Regions from separate parts of the Homo sapiens genome. Here region 1 is linked to region 2. The links come from fine-mapping of genetic effects on gene expression. Tissue or cell type: whole blood. Region 2 holds a variant in brackets; the other region holds the start of a gene. All regions are shown on one strand. Distances are between the middles of the regions.

What was found. PIP is the estimated chance that this variant, and not a neighbour inherited with it, causes the effect.
Region 1: ANXA2R starts here. The variant in region 2 is fine-mapped to the expression of ANXA2R in whole blood (INTERVAL, PIP 0.95).

What each region holds. Positions count from the first base shown.
Region 1 is chr5:43,037,166-43,045,165 of GRCh38, forward strand. ANXA2R (annexin A2 receptor) reads right to left here and starts at 3,154. Exons shown (of 1, transcript NM_001014279.3): 1 at 2,206-3,154. The coding sequence starts at 2,881. The coding sequence ends at 2,300. All of the region lies in intron 2 of ANXA2R-OT1 (ANXA2R overlapping transcript 1), which reads right to left. ANXA2R-AS1 (ANXA2R antisense RNA 1) reads left to right here and starts at 4,969. Exons shown (of 2, transcript NR_015447.1): 1 at 4,969-6,402; 2 at 7,278-8,000. RefSeq lists enhancers at 2,036-2,576, 2,268-2,317, 2,338-2,747, 2,758-2,807, 4,463-4,542 and 7 more and a silencer at 3,148-3,417.
Region 2 is chr5:43,085,691-43,094,037 of GRCh38, forward strand. It overlaps LOC100506639 (a long non-coding RNA gene), which reads left to right. Exons shown (of 3, transcript NR_102752.1): 3 at 7,333-7,868. LOC124900972 (a long non-coding RNA gene) reads right to left here. Exons shown (of 2, transcript XR_007058762.1): 2 at 6,495-8,347. Among named protein-coding and RNA genes, the nearest start is that of ANXA2R-OT1, 22 kb to the left of the region's middle. The variant CT/C (reference allele first, on the strand shown) is at 4,091.

The DNA of each region.
Region 1 (8,000 bases), 49 kb before region 2:
TCGAAAAAACACAGACTCGATTGTGACAGAAATACCGCCACAAACGCAGGTACAGGGACAGCCGACACCGAGAACCAAGGGAAGCGGCTGAGAGCTGCGCCTCCACGGAATAACTGCCAGCCGGCACAGTGCGAGTGAGAAACCGGCCACTCCATGAAACGACCAGTACTGCCACGGAAAAGAATCCGACGTCGCCAACAAGCGGTGCTACCAGGAGAAACGCCTGCTTTTGAAGAAAACAGCCAGGAACGCGACTGAAAGACACTTGCTCCCAGGAAGAATTGGCATTTGTTCCAAAACACAGCTGGATAAACCGAGAACCTTCGGAGTGGTTGCACCGAAACGGGGTCACCCAGCACCTCAGCGTCCTGGGCTCTAGCAAGCCTCACAGAAGCAACCGGCAGTGCTAACACCGAGGAGCACCTAGAGCGGCAAAACTAGCAGTAATGCCATCGACGAAAGGCCAGTTAGGCCAAAAGAATAGAATATTTAGTTCCGGGAATTACAGGCCAGCGCAAACCAGACAGCATAAAGCTGAGGGTCAGCAAAACAAAAATTAGGAACAATTTTTTTTTAAAGGGCAAGTTAGCTGAAAAACACACGCACACACAATAAAAACAATACATTTGGGAAGATTCATCAAATGAAAATTCAAAACTAAGCAAAACATGGAAAAATGGACTCTACAAAGAAGAAAATGCAAACACTTCTAAACAATGTGGTTTCACAGAGGTAATATCGCTGTCAGGCCTATATCAGTATCTGCTCGGTCTCACCAGGACTTCTAACTAAGGGACTGCAGACACTGCTAAACCGCTACTTGCTACTCCTAAAATATCTTCTTCACCTACGTGCCCGGACTTCTATATTTAAAACTCAGGCATAAGTAAAGCAGGGTAAGTTATTATGAAACCGAAAGTTACTGGGACTAAGGAGTCGCAGGCATGGCTATGCTAGTACTGGTTGCGACCAAATATGGACTTGCAAGAGCTAAGAAATCACATTCACAGGGGCACTTAAAATCGAAGCATGCACTTGTTACTCTAAGAAATCCCTAACCCAGGACTCGCTCAGAATATTTCGAACGCAGAATTAAGCATCTTTATCGCAGGCGAAATAAGCCGATACTTATTCCGCTTAAGTCCGAACTTGCTATGCAGAGAAACCACAATCAGGGCTACATTCCGAGTGTAGGAGGTTTAAAACTCCCGAAAAGGCAGTCAAAGCAGGCAGGGCCAAGCCGGACCTGCTGTGCCTACCCGAATTGCTAAACCCAGTTGTGGTACCATTAAGTAACTGGTAGTTCTCTTATAAGCCAAGCTAAACTGTTCCAAAGAAAAAGACGCTGGAAACACTGCTAGCCCTGAGACCCATGAATAAGTAGTCTTTTCAATTATTTATTTATTTTGAGACAGGCTCTCGCTCTGCTGGAGGGCGTTGGTGCTATCCGGCTCACCGCAGCCTCGACCTCCTGAGCTCAAGCAACCCGCCCACCCCAGCCTCCGGAGCAGCTGGGACTACAGGTGCACACCATCTCACAGGGCTAACTTTTGCATTTTTTGTAGACACAGGCCTCACCCTGTCGCCCAGGCTTTTCTCAAACTCCTGAGCTCAAGCAATCCGCATGCCTCCGCTGCTGAAAGTGCTGGGATTACTGCCGTGAGCCACGCTGCCCCGCCAGAATAAGTAATCTTAAGAACTGGTCATCTGTGAAGTTGTATTAATATAAGTAATTGCGTGGTCCTTCCACGAGAAATAGCAAAGATTGATAAACCTCTCAGTCTTATGATCGTGAATAAAATTCCTGAGTGTAAAACAATGAATCGATATACTGAAAAAAAGAAAGACCGCTGTTAAAAATAAAATTAACAATTAAAATTAAAAAGACGTTATAATAACGTAAAAGACATGATATAAAATTAAATGTAAACAAACAATACATTTAAAAAGCAATAATTAGAAAAATAGTAGGAATAAGATTTTAAAATACAATGGAAAAAAACAAATTTTAAATTTGCCAAAAACTCTAAGAATTCTACAATCGTAAAATAGATTTCTCAAAGTGAAAACAGATACGAATGAAATATTTAATGAAATAAATACAAATATTTAAAATACAAGGAAACTGAAAGTAATAAGCGACGCGAAACAAGAAAGAAACATAAGGGAAAAAGAGAATTTAAAAACTGACAACCAGCAATGAAAGCACATCTTAATGTATTTTTATTTTCTAGGTGGAGACGTTTGGTAACTGAGAATCTTTTCAAGGAGGAGAATCCAAAAAGCCTTCTGCTGCTATCTAAGGCTGCTTAGCTCCACAGATCCGTGAACAGCACGCCCAGAGTACAGAGAACGCGGCAAAACCAACGCGAAGAATCCACTCCAGGCAGTCTGAGAAACCCGGGAGGTGGCGCCACGGCTGGAGGGCAGGAGGATGGCGGCGTTCCAAAAGGCACCCGCTGTCACAGACCTCGGTGTCCTGCTGTCTGTCCCAGGGATGGAGAGGACTGCTCCAGGGAAGCTGCTGGAGCCTGAGTCTGTCGGGTTCCTCTGCCTGCCCCACCTCTTCTACGGGTGCCTCTTGCTGCTTCTGTGTCCCCGGCCAACTGAACTCAGTGGGCTTCGCTGTACTTGGTTCCAAGGTGCTCTGGACTCCAGGAGAGAGTCCGTTTTGCCAGTAGACTCCGGGCAGCCGCCAGCAAGGGCTGGAAAGCAGTCCCAAATCACAGCTGTCCAGTGAGTACTCTCCTAGTACTGGATACAAAGGAAGAGGCCACGGCCCACGATCTTCTGAACTCACAATAGGTGGAGGCTGGGGCTCTGGCGCCACCTCTGCGGAATCCCAAGCCCGCTTCACACAGCCAAGAAAATGTTGCTCCATCCCTCAAGCCTCAGACCAACGTTTGCGCTGATCAAGGAGGGAGAGTCTCTGCACTACCATCAGCCTGAGTATTTATGCTCTGCAGAGCCCGTGGGCGGAGGCCAGTCAGATATTAAGAAACTCAGTAGTAACAAATGCACGAAAATTAGTAGACAAATGAAAAACGATAACATTTTAGAGAGTACATAGAACCAAAACGAACCGTAATTCCGACAGAAAAACATGGCGAGAAAAGAAACCGAAATGAAATGACACTAAGCAAATCTTGAAGAGAACTAGCGCTACAGAACGCAGGTATTCAAGAGCGCGCAAGGGCCAAGAACCACCCGTTTCCGGGAAATGAGCGTTGCTGCCACCGGAAAACTGTCTGCTAGGGCTCTGCCCTAACCACCTTGCAAACGAGAAACTGGCGCGTTGAACTTAGCAAGCGCCGGCACCTAGCGGATAGCGCTGGTATTGCCAAACAAATATCCGTTTTGGCGCCGTAAAGGGTGCTGCTAAAGAGAAACAGCATGCTCTTAGAACTAAGAGCGGTGCTTCCACACCTAAACAACCTGTTTGGAGGAATGAACCAACTCTGTTTCAATGTGTTGTACCAGAAAAATGTGTTGCGGCATTTAATGTGTTTTAATCCGTTCAATGTGTTTGATAGGTTTAATATGTTTTAACCCGTTTTAATGGGTTGTGACAGAAAAAGCGCCGGCTAATGGTACCACACAATTACTAGTGCGAACAGCGGCTCGGTGCAATCACCGTTCTGCACGGCAAAACGGGGTTCAGGAAGTTCCTAGGAGATACTAGCGGTTGTAGGAGCGAAAAAGTGACAGCACTGAGAACCTAAGGACCCCGCGAACGGGAAATGTCACGTTGGGTGCAGCAACTGAGAAAACGCCCAGTGGGCGCCACTGGCAAACGTGCTGATACAAAACCGCCAGCTCTGCATAGGAAGCGGAGCCTCCAGACAGAACCCGGAACCTGATACCAGCGAGGCTAAGACCGAGCTCGGCTCCCCGGCTCCTGAGAGAATGAAAGTCAAGAAGCACGAATCTGAGACGCTCAAAATTAGAAGAAAAAAAAAATACATAATTTAAAATAATGAAAGTCTGAAATGCAAGTAAAAATGAAAAACACATCGGTAACATTGTCCTCAGAGCAAGACACAAAAATAATTTTAAGGTAAGCAAAAGTTACAGAGAACCAACCCTACAAAGAAGAAATTACAAATATGGCTAAGCGATGCAATGCCTACCATTAGAATATTTCTGTCAGATCTAAACCCCTGCAGGTTGCTCCTGTCATAATTTCCTACGAGAAAAAAAACAAAAATATCCACGGTTAAACGTGTTTAGCTACGTCTAAAAAATCGTAGTAGCTGGTACATCCCGATTTGGTCTACAAGAGGAAAAAGTCTCGATGGGCAGGACTTGCTATTGTCAAAGGGAGCTTGGTAAAACTGAGACATCGCGATCGCCGGCATTTCCTGACTTCCACGGGAGTTTTAAAAACACACAAGCATAGCTAAGACAGGACTCGATATTGCGAAACCAAACTTGGTATAAGAGCTCCCAACACTGCTAAACTGGTCATCGCTAAACCTTTAAAAAAAAAAAAAAAGCATTCGCTGGTACCCAGATTTCCACAGGAGTTAAACATTTCCTGCGCAGCTAAAGCAAGTCTTACCAGTAGGAAACCGGAACTTGCTAGGACTAAGAAACTTGAGGCTAGGCTGACCCCATGGTTGTTATGATTAGAAATCCGAGGCCACTGGAAACCCGGAGCTGCTGACCAACGAGTCACAGGGTAACTTCGCCTTCGCATGGGGAAACGGGTGAGTTCCTACGGCCTAGATATCGCAGCCAGGGCTAGACCGGTGTTTGTCTTAAGTCAGGACTTGCTTGGGCTGAGAAAATACATTTTGGCTATTCCCCTACTTGGACAGAGGGTGGAAATCCCAGGCACCGCGAAATCGAAACTTGCTAGGACTAAGAAGCCAACGACGCGCGAAACCGTGGGGTCCTGCGACAGAGACGCCGGCGGCGCCGCCACAGGACTGCGTTCTGGAGGCCGAGCCGGAACCCGTGCGGCGGCGCTGGGAAGAGACTGTGCCCCTGCAGCTCCCCTGTCACCGGCTCCAAGGAGCGTCGGGCTCCCCCCGCCCAGCCCTGCAGCACCCATCCGGCAACGCCAGACTCGGCGCAACGGGGGCAGCTGCGACTTTAAATCTCTCAGATCCGCGGCCTGAGGGCTGCCGCCACCGAGAAATGGAGGCACAGAGCTGTGAACAAGAGACCACGGCTCGCCGAAATGGCGGTGCCAGGAGCCTGAAAGGGAATGCAGCCGGCGGGGTTGTCAAGGACAACATTTGTTTTGGCGCAACCAGCGGTGCCGTCACCAAGAAACCGTCGACTCTGAGAAAAAAAGAGAAGTTCGGCTACCGAGAAACTCCGTGCAGCAAGTGCTGTGACAGCAAAACCGCCGGCTTCGCGCCGCTGGCGAAAGAGCCAACGGAAACGCCGGGTGCTGCGACCGCGAAGCCGGCACTAGAGGGCCTCGGATGGAGAAAGCCCCGCACCGAGACGAGGAAACTGTGCACAGCACGACTAGCAGTTGACACAAACAGAAAAGTGTCTCGTCTGCTCTCTGGGAGAAAGCGTGGATCAAAACCAGCAACTCAGTGGAGAGAACCCCGCAGCCACTGAAGAAGTTGCCCACGTGGCGGTGGGGCCAGAGAAACACCGCGATTTCGACGACAGCCGTAGGGATACCACAGAGAAACATGCGCGGCCACAGAAGTACATCCAGCTCCGCGCAATCAGTGGTTCTGCGATCCAGAAACCGCCAGCTGGGCTAGACTAGAAACTTCTAAAAAACTGTCGTCCCATAGCAGCTTTCCTAACCACGACAGACAGTCGCCTTTAGAGAGCACCTAACGGTGCTGAGACCGGCCTGGGCCAGCAAAAGCGCAGAGCGGTGCCAGTGCCAAGAAACGCCCGACTTGGTGAAACCAACCTTGTGACCACCGATTCCACTGGCTTCGCAGGACGCAACGGGCGAAGGCGCGGCGGAGAAACCGCAGGCTCCCTTCACCGATTATGCTGCGGGCTGGGGATGGTGGGGGGCACCCGCGAAATTGTGAAACCAGCGGCGCTGGGACCCAGCGATCAGCTGCCCGTAGCAAATGTCTGTGCAGTTGCAAAAGATAATTTTTGGCCGTGAGAAGGTTGCCGCCAGAGAGCGTCCGATAACGCTGACAAAGGCGTGGCGTTGCCAGTGAGAAACAGCCGGCGCTGGGAAAGGAACGGTGCAGCGACCGACCAACTGCGCGCTCGGTGCCACCAAAGTGCTACTGGCTCTACCCACTCTGTCCCCCACGGGCTTAGGGAAGTCTGATGTCTTTTTCTTTTCTTTTTTCCTCTGTCGCCTAGGCTGGTGCAGTGGTGTCATCTTGGCTCAGTGCAGCCTCGACTTCCTGGGATCCAGCGATCCTCCCGCTTCAGCCTCTAGAGTAGCCGAGACCACAGGTGAGTGCTACCACCCCCGTCTAATTTATATATATTTATATATATAAATATATATATTAAAATATATATTTTATATTTATATATAATATAAATAAATATATAAATATAAATATATATTTTTATATATTATATAAAATATATAAATATATATTTATTTATATATTATATATAATATATATATTATATAATATATATATTATATAATATATATATAATATATAATATATATATTATATATAAAATATATTATATATAATATATATAATATATTATATATTATATATTATATATAATATATATAATATATTATATATAATATATAATATATAATATATTATATATAATATATAAAATATATAAAATATAGTATATAATATATAAAATATATTATATATAATATATAATATATAAGATATATAATATATTATATATAATATATTATATATAATATATTTTATATAGTATATAAAATATAAAATATATATTATATATAAAATATATATTATATATAAAATATATATTATATATAAAATATATATTATATATGAAATATATATATATAAATATATATATATTAGTGACGGCGGTCTCGCTATGTTGCCCAGGCTGGTCTCGAACTCCTGAGCTCAAGCGATTCGCCCGCCTGGGCCTCCCAAAGTGCTGGGATCACAGGCGTGGGCCACCGAGGCCCGCAGGAAGTCTGTATTGTTCTTGCATTCCACCCAGTGCATTACGCAGGGGGAGAGTAGTGGGCTTATGCGCCGAGAACCAAGCAGATCCTGTTGGTCCCAGGAACAAAGTATAAACCATTCTGGTCGCCAACAGCTTCCTACGCAGGAAACAGCCATCCACCCTCTGTGACTGGGCTTTTCCAGGTCACCCCTCGCTGCCAGGCTCTCTTCCCGGTCCAGAGCCCACAGGATCCTACAGGAGGGGCCAACAACTGCTTGCCTTTGAAACTTGAAACTCTCGGTCTAAGGTTCCTTAGGAGCGTAAAAGGCACAGCGTTTTCTGATCGCAGCTTCAGGTCTCCCGCCCCTGTCCCGGTACCTCTCCTGCAGGACGGAACTCTGTGGGAACGCTCGTTGATTCTGATGGTTAACTGTCAGATATCCTTGATATTGGACATAGGATTTGGAAGAGGGCAGGAGAGAAAAATGAACTGCAAGACTCCAGCACAAGAGGTGGGATTGCTGGCAGATGTCTGCTCCCTCTCCAAACCTAATGAACATCTCAAAGTGCCATCCACTTTCCTATACCCTTGATCTGTGAAATGGATCACTGACGCTTTCTCTGTCTTTCCGGAAATGCAAAACAGGTGAATTTTCAAGCGCTTGAATTGTCTCTCACACTTTTCAGTCAAGAGTGGGGCTATAAACTCCTTCCTCATAGGAAATAAGGAACTGCCACTGCTTGGAAGTAAAACGTATTTTTCCCATAAGCTTTCACATTTCCCAAAAAAAATTATACATCCAGATGTAATCCCCCTAAGAGGCTTACAGACCCTACCAGGAGCGTTCCCACGCGAACGCATCATCTCCCAATCGGATCCTGAAAACACCATGCAACCAATTCCATCCTTTTCTGGATCAACCTGG
Region 2 (8,347 bases):
TCCAGCCTGGGTGACATAGTGAGACTCCGCCTCCAAAAAAAAAAAAAAAGACACAATTGACAAGAAAATTTGCTTATTTCTGTGGCATATAACAATTTAACACAATAATCATATGAATCATAACATAGGCCAAGACATATCATAATTTTAGGAATCTCATACAATTTTGGAGCACATATTAATAACACATTTCTGCAAATGTAACTCAAAGTTAAATGCCACTTCTATTTGACAGTGTTTTCCATATGATTTTTATATACCAAAATTAAAAGTTAGTTTCAGGTCAAAAAGACTTAATTTTAGAATATAAAATTTGATTTTGAGAAGTTTGTCAACTATTAAAGGCTTAAAACACTTGATAGGAAAATAAGAAAGGTTTCAAACCCTGGATCAAAATAGAATTACACATAAGTAATCCTTATCTTACACAAATAAGTTACTCATTTAGCCAAAGTGATAATTCAAAGATTTCAAAAAGCAAAAACCCTTACTCTTTGATAGAGAGGAGACTCAGTTCTCTAAACAGTCAAAAAGACAAAGACAGCATGAGGCAAACTCTCTTTTTTCTTTTGCAATGTATTTAAAAGGTGAACAAAAAATCTTGCATTTGTTATCTCTTTTTTTTTTTTTTTTTTTGTTGTGTTCTAGGAAAACTTTATTTATAAACACAGGCAGCCAATAGTTTGCCAACTCCTATTTTAGAACATGAGTGAGAATCATCAATAAAACTACAAATCTTTGCAACAGTCAGAATAAGAAAATAGTGAATTAAAGACTATTAGCATTTCAGCCATCTAGGACAGTGTTCTTCTCATTATCATACGTAAATATTTGTTTTGTTTTTTTTTTTTTTTAATTGATCATTCTTGGGTGTTTCTCGCAGAAGGGGATTTGGCAGGGTCATAGGACAATAGTGGAGGGAAGGTCAGCAGATAAACAAGTGAACAAAGGTCTCTGGTTTTCCTAGGCAGAGGACCCTGCTGCCTTCCGCAGTGTTTGTGTCCCTGGGTACTTAAGATTAGGGAGTGGTGATGACTCTTAACGAGCATGCTGCCTTCAAGCATCTGTTTAACAAAGCACATCTTGCACCGCCCTTAATCCATTTAACCCTGAGTGGACACAGCACATGTTTCAGAGAGCACAGGGTTGGGGATAAGGTCACAGATCAACAGGATCCCAAGGCAGAAGAATTTTTCTTAGTACAGAACAAAATGAAAAGTCTCCCATGTCTACTTCTATCCACACAGACCCGGCAACCATCCGATTTCTCAATTTTTTCCCCACCCTTCCCGCCTTTCTATTCCACAAAACCGCCATTGTCATCATGGCCCATCCCCAGTGAGCCGCTGGGCACACCTCCCAGACGGGGTCGTGGCCGGGCAGAGGGGCTCCTCACTTCCCAGTAGGGGCGGCCGGGCAGAAGCGCCCCTCACCTCCCGGATGGGGCGGCTGGCCGGGCGGGGGGCTGACCCCCCCACCACCCTCCCGGACGGGGCGGCTGGCCAGGCAGAGGGGCTCCTCACTTCCCAGTAGGGGCGGCCGGGCAGAGGCGCCCCTCACCTCCTGGATAGGGCGGCTGGCCGGGCGGGGGGCTGACCCCTCCACCTCCCTCCCGGACGGGGCGGCTGGCCGACCCCCCCCGCCGCCTCCCTCCCGGATGGGGCGGCTGGCCAGGCAGAGGGGCTCCTCACTTCCCAGTAGGGGCGGCCGGGCAGAGGCGCCCCTCACCTCCCGGACGGGGCGGCTGGCCAGGCGGGGGGCTGATCCCCCCACCTCCCTCCCGGACGGGGCGGCTGGCCGGGCGGGGGGCTGACCCCCCCACCTCCCTCCCGGACGGGGCGGCTGGCCGGGCAGGGGGCTGACTCCCCCTCCCCCCTCCCGGACGGGGCGGCTGGCTGGGCGGGGGCTGACCCCCCCACCTCCCTCCCGGACGGGGCGGCTGGCTGGGCAGAGGGGCTCCTCACCTCCCAGTAGGGGCGGCCGGGCAGAGGCGCCCCTCACCTCCCGGACGGGGCGGCTGGCCAGGCGGGGGGCTGATCCCCCCACCTCCCTCCCGGACGGGGCGGCTGGCCGGGCGAGGGGCTGACCCCCCACCTCCCTCCCGGACTGGGCGGCTGGCCGGGCGGGGGGCTGATCCCCCCACCTCCCTCCCGGACGGGGCGGCTGGCCGGGCAGAGGGGTCCTCACTTCCCAGTAGGGGCGGCCGGGCAGAGGCGCCCCTCACCTCCCGGACGGGGCGGCCGGCCGGGCGGGGGGCTGACCCCCCCACCTCCCTCCCGGACGGGGCGGCTGGCCGGGCAGAGGGGCTCCTCACTTCCCAGTAGGGGTGGCCGGGCAGAGGCGCCCCTCACCTCCCGGACGGGGCGGCTGGCCAGGCGGGGGGCTGATCCCCCCACCTCCCTCCCGGACGGGGCGGCTGGCCGGGCAGGGGGCTGACCCCCCCTCCCCCCTCCCGGACTGGGCGGCTGGCCGGGCGGGGGGCTGACCCCCCCACCTCCCTCCTGGACGGGGCGACTGGCCAGGCAGAGGGGCTCCTCACTTCCCAGTAGGGGCGGCCGGGCAGAGGAGCCCCTCACCTCCCGGACGGGGCGGCTGGCCGGGCGGGGGCTGACCCCCCCCACCTCCCTCCTGGACGGGGTGGCTGCTGGGCGGAGACGCTCCTCACTTCCCAGACGGGGTGGCTGCTGGACGGAGGGGCTCCTCACTTCTCAGACGGGGCGGTTGCCAGGCAGAGGGTTTCCTCACTTCTCAGACGGGGCGGCCGGGCAGAGGCGCTCCTCACATCCCAGACAGGGCGGCGGGGCAGAGGTGCTCCCCACCTCTCAGACGATGGGCGGCCGGGCAGAGACGCTCCTCACTTCCTAGATGGGATGGCGGCGGGGAAGTGGCGCTCCTCGCTTCCTAGATGGGATGGCGGCCGGGCAGAGACGCTCCTCACTTTCCAGACTGGGCAGCCAGGCAGAGGGGCTCCTCATATCCCAGACGATGGGCGGCCAGGCAGAGACGCTCCTCACTTCCCAGACGGGGTGGCGGCCGGGCAGAGGCTGCAATCTCGGCTCTTTGGGAGGCCAAGGCAGGCGGCTGGGAGGTGGTTGTAGCGAGCCGAGATCACGCCACTGCACTCCAGCCTTGGCACCATTGAGCACTGAGTGAACGAGACTCCGTCTGCAATCCCGGCACCTCGGGAGGCCGAGGCTGGCGGATCACTCGCGGTTAGGAGCTGGAGACCAGCCCGGCCAACACAGCAAAACCCCGTCTCCACCAAAAAAAAAACGAAAACCAGTCAGGCGTGGCGACGCGCGCCTGCAATCGCAGGCACTCAGCAGGCTGAGGCAGGAGAATCAGGCAGGGAGGTTGCAGTGAGCCGAGATCGCAGCAGTACAGTCCAGCTTCGGCTCGGCATCAGAGGGAGACCGTGGAAGGAGACCGGGGAGAGGGAGACGGAGAGGGAGACGAGAGGGAGGGGGAGGGGGAGGGGGAGGGGGAGAGGGCTTGTTAGAGAGCTTGTTATCTCTTATATGGAAATTTTGTTAAAAAATTTGTATCTCTATATCCGTATATTATTAATGCTAAAGCTAATTTTAGTAAAATTATGAACAGGTCTATCTAACCTCAATTAGTTTTGACCACAGAAGATAAGATTTGTATAAACCTTTTATAACCTTTTATAATTTTTTAAATTTAGTTTTATCTGTTATTAACTATTAAAAATTTAAAACTTTAAAACAAACATCTAAACTAAGCTAGGTGTGGCAGCTCACACCTGTAATCCCAGCACTTTGGGAGGCCGAGGCAGGAGGATCCCTTGAGTCCAGGAGTTCAAGACCAGCTTGGGTAATAAACTGAGATCCCGTCTCCACAAAAAAAAATATTTAATTACCCAATTATGGTTGTGTGCACCTACAGTCCCAGCTACTTGGGAAGCTGAGGCAGGAGGAACCCTTGAGCACAGAAGTTTGAGGTTATATAGTGAGCTGATAACACCACTGCAGTCCAGCCCAGGCAACAGAATGAGACCCCATCTCGAAACCCTCAAAACTGAACAACATTTTTCTTACCAACAACTATATTTTTATGTCTTTTTAATAAC[CT/C]TTTTTTTTTTTTTGAGACTAAATCTTGCTCTGTCACCCAGGCTGGAGTGCAATGACACGTTCTCGGCTCACTGCAACCTCTGCCCCTCGGGATCAAGCGATTCTCCTGCCTCAGCCCCCTGAGTAGCTGGGATTACAGAAGCGTGCCACCACACCCAGCTAATTTTTGTATTTTTAGTAGAGACAGGGTTTCGCCATGTTGGCCAGGCTGGTCATGAACTCCTGACCTCAGGTGATCCACCCACCTCCTCCTCCCAAACTGCTGGGATTACAGGCATGAGCCCCTGCGCCCTTGCCAATCTTCTTTATTTAAAACATCTTTTTTGTATATGTTGCATATAGAAGTGTTTTTGTGTATGTTGTATATATTTTGTATATAGAAGCATTTTTTGTATCTAGAAGGCTTTTCTTTTCCTTTTTTTTTTTTTGTGAAATAGAGGATCTTACTCTCTTACTCTGTTGCCCAGGCTGGAGTACAGTGGCATGATCATAGTTCACTGCAGCCTAGACCTCCTGGGCTCAAGCAGTCCTCTCACTTCAGCCTCCTGAGTAGCTGGGACTACAGGCATGTGCCACCATGCCTGGCAAATTTTTTTTTTTTCATAGAGACAAGGTTTCACCATATTGCCCAGACTCATCTTGAACTCCTGGGCTAAAGCAATCTACCAGCTTTAGCCTCCCACAGTGCTGGGACTACAGGCATGAGCCACCATGCCTGGCCTAACCTAGAAGTTTTAATTATACATAATAATTATAATATTAATGCTTAATAACTCTGATTTTTAGTGAAAAATCAAGGAAATAAGTAATTTTAACTGTTATATACCAGATGTAGAGACCAATACAAAGGAAAGAGCTCTCAAGACAGTCTCTGTAGGACCTGATTTCTCTCAGCATGGCCAGGAGGCACAGCTGGACTAGGGAAAGTGAGGCACAGGTCATGTCCCCAGTCCTCACAACGGCCACTGGTCTAGGCCACTGGTATGGGTCTCTCATATATATATATGGCTTGAATATCAGCTTTTAATTAAGCTGACTTCTGACCATGTAGCTCTTTTTTAATTAAAAAAATCTTTCAAAATTTCTTATTATCAGATTTTAGCTGAGACAAACAGCTAACATTGCTGGCTTTTGAACTTTTTAACCAAAGACACCCTACATAACCAAGAATGCATGAGGTGTCTCCAAAGAGGCACAAAGAAGTACTCACAAGATCCAGAACCAACTTCAAAGATAGCTCAAAGAAGTAAGAGTTTTGCTAATCACAAATGGGGTATAATTTGTATCTGTCTGATTATATTCTCTCTAGGGTCTCAGCTTCTCATCTGGCCATCACAAAGGCCCAAAAAGCCCCATGTGCCCTTACAGATGGAAGACAATCAAAAGCTGTCCATGGAAAGGAAAAAGATGAAAAACAAATGAGTACCCCCAAAAGTAAAAAGTCACATGATTATCAAACCAAAAGGGGCTGATTCCCTGCCCAGGAGTCAAACCCAGGCCACTCTGGTGAAAGCAGAGAATTTTATCTAAACTACAAGGTGGAGCAGACTACTTAGTGAATCTTGAATGGGATCCAAAGTAAGGAGTTTGAGCTCATAAAGGGTTTTAACTTTGTTTTCAGTTAGGGGTTTGCTCTTTAATTTTGTCAAGAGAATTTCTAAGGCTAGCCATGACACCATTGTATGTCTTTCTTTTAATGTAATCTTCCTATAAATACAAATAAGGCAATTGTTGAGAATGAGAGATCTTTAAAAATGTTTTTTGAGTTTAGGAGTCTTTCTAATTTAAAGGATCCATCGTCTGGACATTGGAAATTAGAATTTCCACTGGTATACTTAATTCAATGCAACAGCCTCTTCATTGGAAAACCCAAGATATAAATTTCTAGGTTTAATGTAAGTTTTTATCATTTAAGAAAAAGATGTTTCTTGAAGAGGCATAGAAGTGGCAATCCTAAAGAGTCTCTCCCTCAAAAATTTACTCCCAGGAATAGGCCAAGATAGAAAGATTCTTATTGCCACACATGGTTAAGGATGCTGTTTGTGCATACAGTGCCTCTGGTGACTTAGAAATTTGTGGGGATCACCAGTCACAGACCTCTTAATTTGTGACACCAAGTAGGCTCTTTTAGGATAGGACTTTTCTAGCACTAACCAGGCAACAAGGGTTGAGGCAACAAAAACCCTGTAGAGATGGGACTTTTAAAGACAAACTACCTCAAGAGCTTGACACATTTGGAACAAAAAGTGTATTGCTTCAAATCTTATATGACTCTGGTTCCCAGCCATTTTCAGACTGGCCACCAGACATGATCCAAAAATCATGCCACCCAAATGATGGAGACAGAGAGTGCTCCCACTTGGTCACAGGTCAAGCTCAAGGACATAAAACAAGACAAGAGGGGAACCTCATCCAGTTTTTATTTTGGAAACCCACAGCAAAGTTTATACGCTGCTCTGATCACAATCAAAACTGACCAGTTTTCAGGGTTGGCTTGAAAAACGGGCTTATAGGAGGTTTAGGCCCATGTTCCACCCTATGGTGTCCTTCTTTATCACAGAACAACACAAAAAGACAAAGAAGAAAACTGTTTCTGGGAGGAGAAAGACCAAACAATACGAATATTCATACCAAACAGTACATCAGAGTTGTTAGACCCACTACTAGCCACACAAATTTTTTTCTCCTATTAATCAAAATTTTGCAGAGGAAAAAGAGACATACAGTGATTTTTGCCATCCACTTGACTGGATTCCACAGAGAGAGACCGAGAGCCTGGTTGGTAAGAAAATCTTACCTTTCTGCCATCTAGTCAGGTCCTAGGTTCCCTTCACTGCAGTTTCCAGAACAGCAAAGAGACTTTGGGATCCTGCTGACAGCACCAAAACTGTAGAAGCTAAGGGAATATTTCCCTTCCTCCTCTGAAGGTTTGATGAAAAATCAACTGACAAAAGGCCAATTACTAGGGGAGATGGCATAGAAATTTACTAGCATGCATTGGGGGAAAGTCACAAGTGATTACCCTAACAATGGGGTATGAATGTTTATATACCAATTTAAGGTTACCAGAAAGAATGGGGGCTTAAGTCTGGCTACATCAATACAGGTTTTCTCTACAGATGAAGGTCTCCCTCATAAAACACAGTTTTTAGGACTACTTCTGTTTGCAGGCCCTCTGAACCACTATCATGAAGTATGTCAAACAAATAGATTTTGGAGTGAAATGTTTTTATTTCCTCAGGAAACCAGCCCTAACAACTCTGAGGCAAGAAGAGGCTTCAGGACTGGATATGGGACTTAGGTGACAGAAAGTCTCCTACCTCTTCAAAAGCACAAACATACTTTATTTCTGTTAAAGAAAAAATGTAACACAGTTGTTAGGATGGTAAAGCAGACTTCATTCAGCATTATTGCCATAGGTGTACTTTGCAGTAGAGGATTGAGATTGGGATCAGCTCCTAATACAAGGAAAATAAGGGATTTACAGCCAAAGACTGAGAGGTAGGGATGGAACGTGGGGCAGGACAGGGGTTAGTGAATGGAAAATTACTAAAAGGATACGTTAATTTTTTCTAAAGTGACCTAACAGTATTCTTGCTATAGGCAGACCAGGGTGATCAGATATCAATTGGAGAATAAGGAATGTGGTCAGATATCGAGGGCGAATCAGATATTGAAGATAGGGGATGCTGGCTAAAACTGGGCTCTTGAGGCAATGTCCAAGGTCCAAGCATAGGTGGGAAAGGGGTGAGGAGACTGTGTCTAGGGTTTGGTCAAGGAGGGTCTTTGTCAGTCCCTTCTACTTCACTCTGTAAAACCCCCTAGTAATTTTATTGGAACCTTAGGGAAGGTGTTACACAAACACAATTTAAGCTCAAGGTTGCCAGGAGATTTTGACCCCTTCATCCTAGAAATTCATGTGGTGGCCACTGTGATGAAGGAAACCCACATATCCTGGAAGAGGGAAGGCCTTGCCCATTTCTCACAAATCTGCTCATCCAGAATTGGCCTCACCAGTTAGGAGACTCAATTCATTTGGACCAATCCTGTCTTTCCACTAGAACTTTCCTGGCTCTACTTAAGCCCATTTTCCCCAAATGTGCTCTTCCAGAATTGGCCTTGCGAAGTGACTGCTTGGTTCTCTCTGCTTCTTCCTCATGCATCTTCCCAGTTCAGCATAAGCCACCATACTGATCCTAGGTTGACCCTTCTTCAACACCTGGAACAGCATCCAGGAACCTAGACAGAGGTCAATT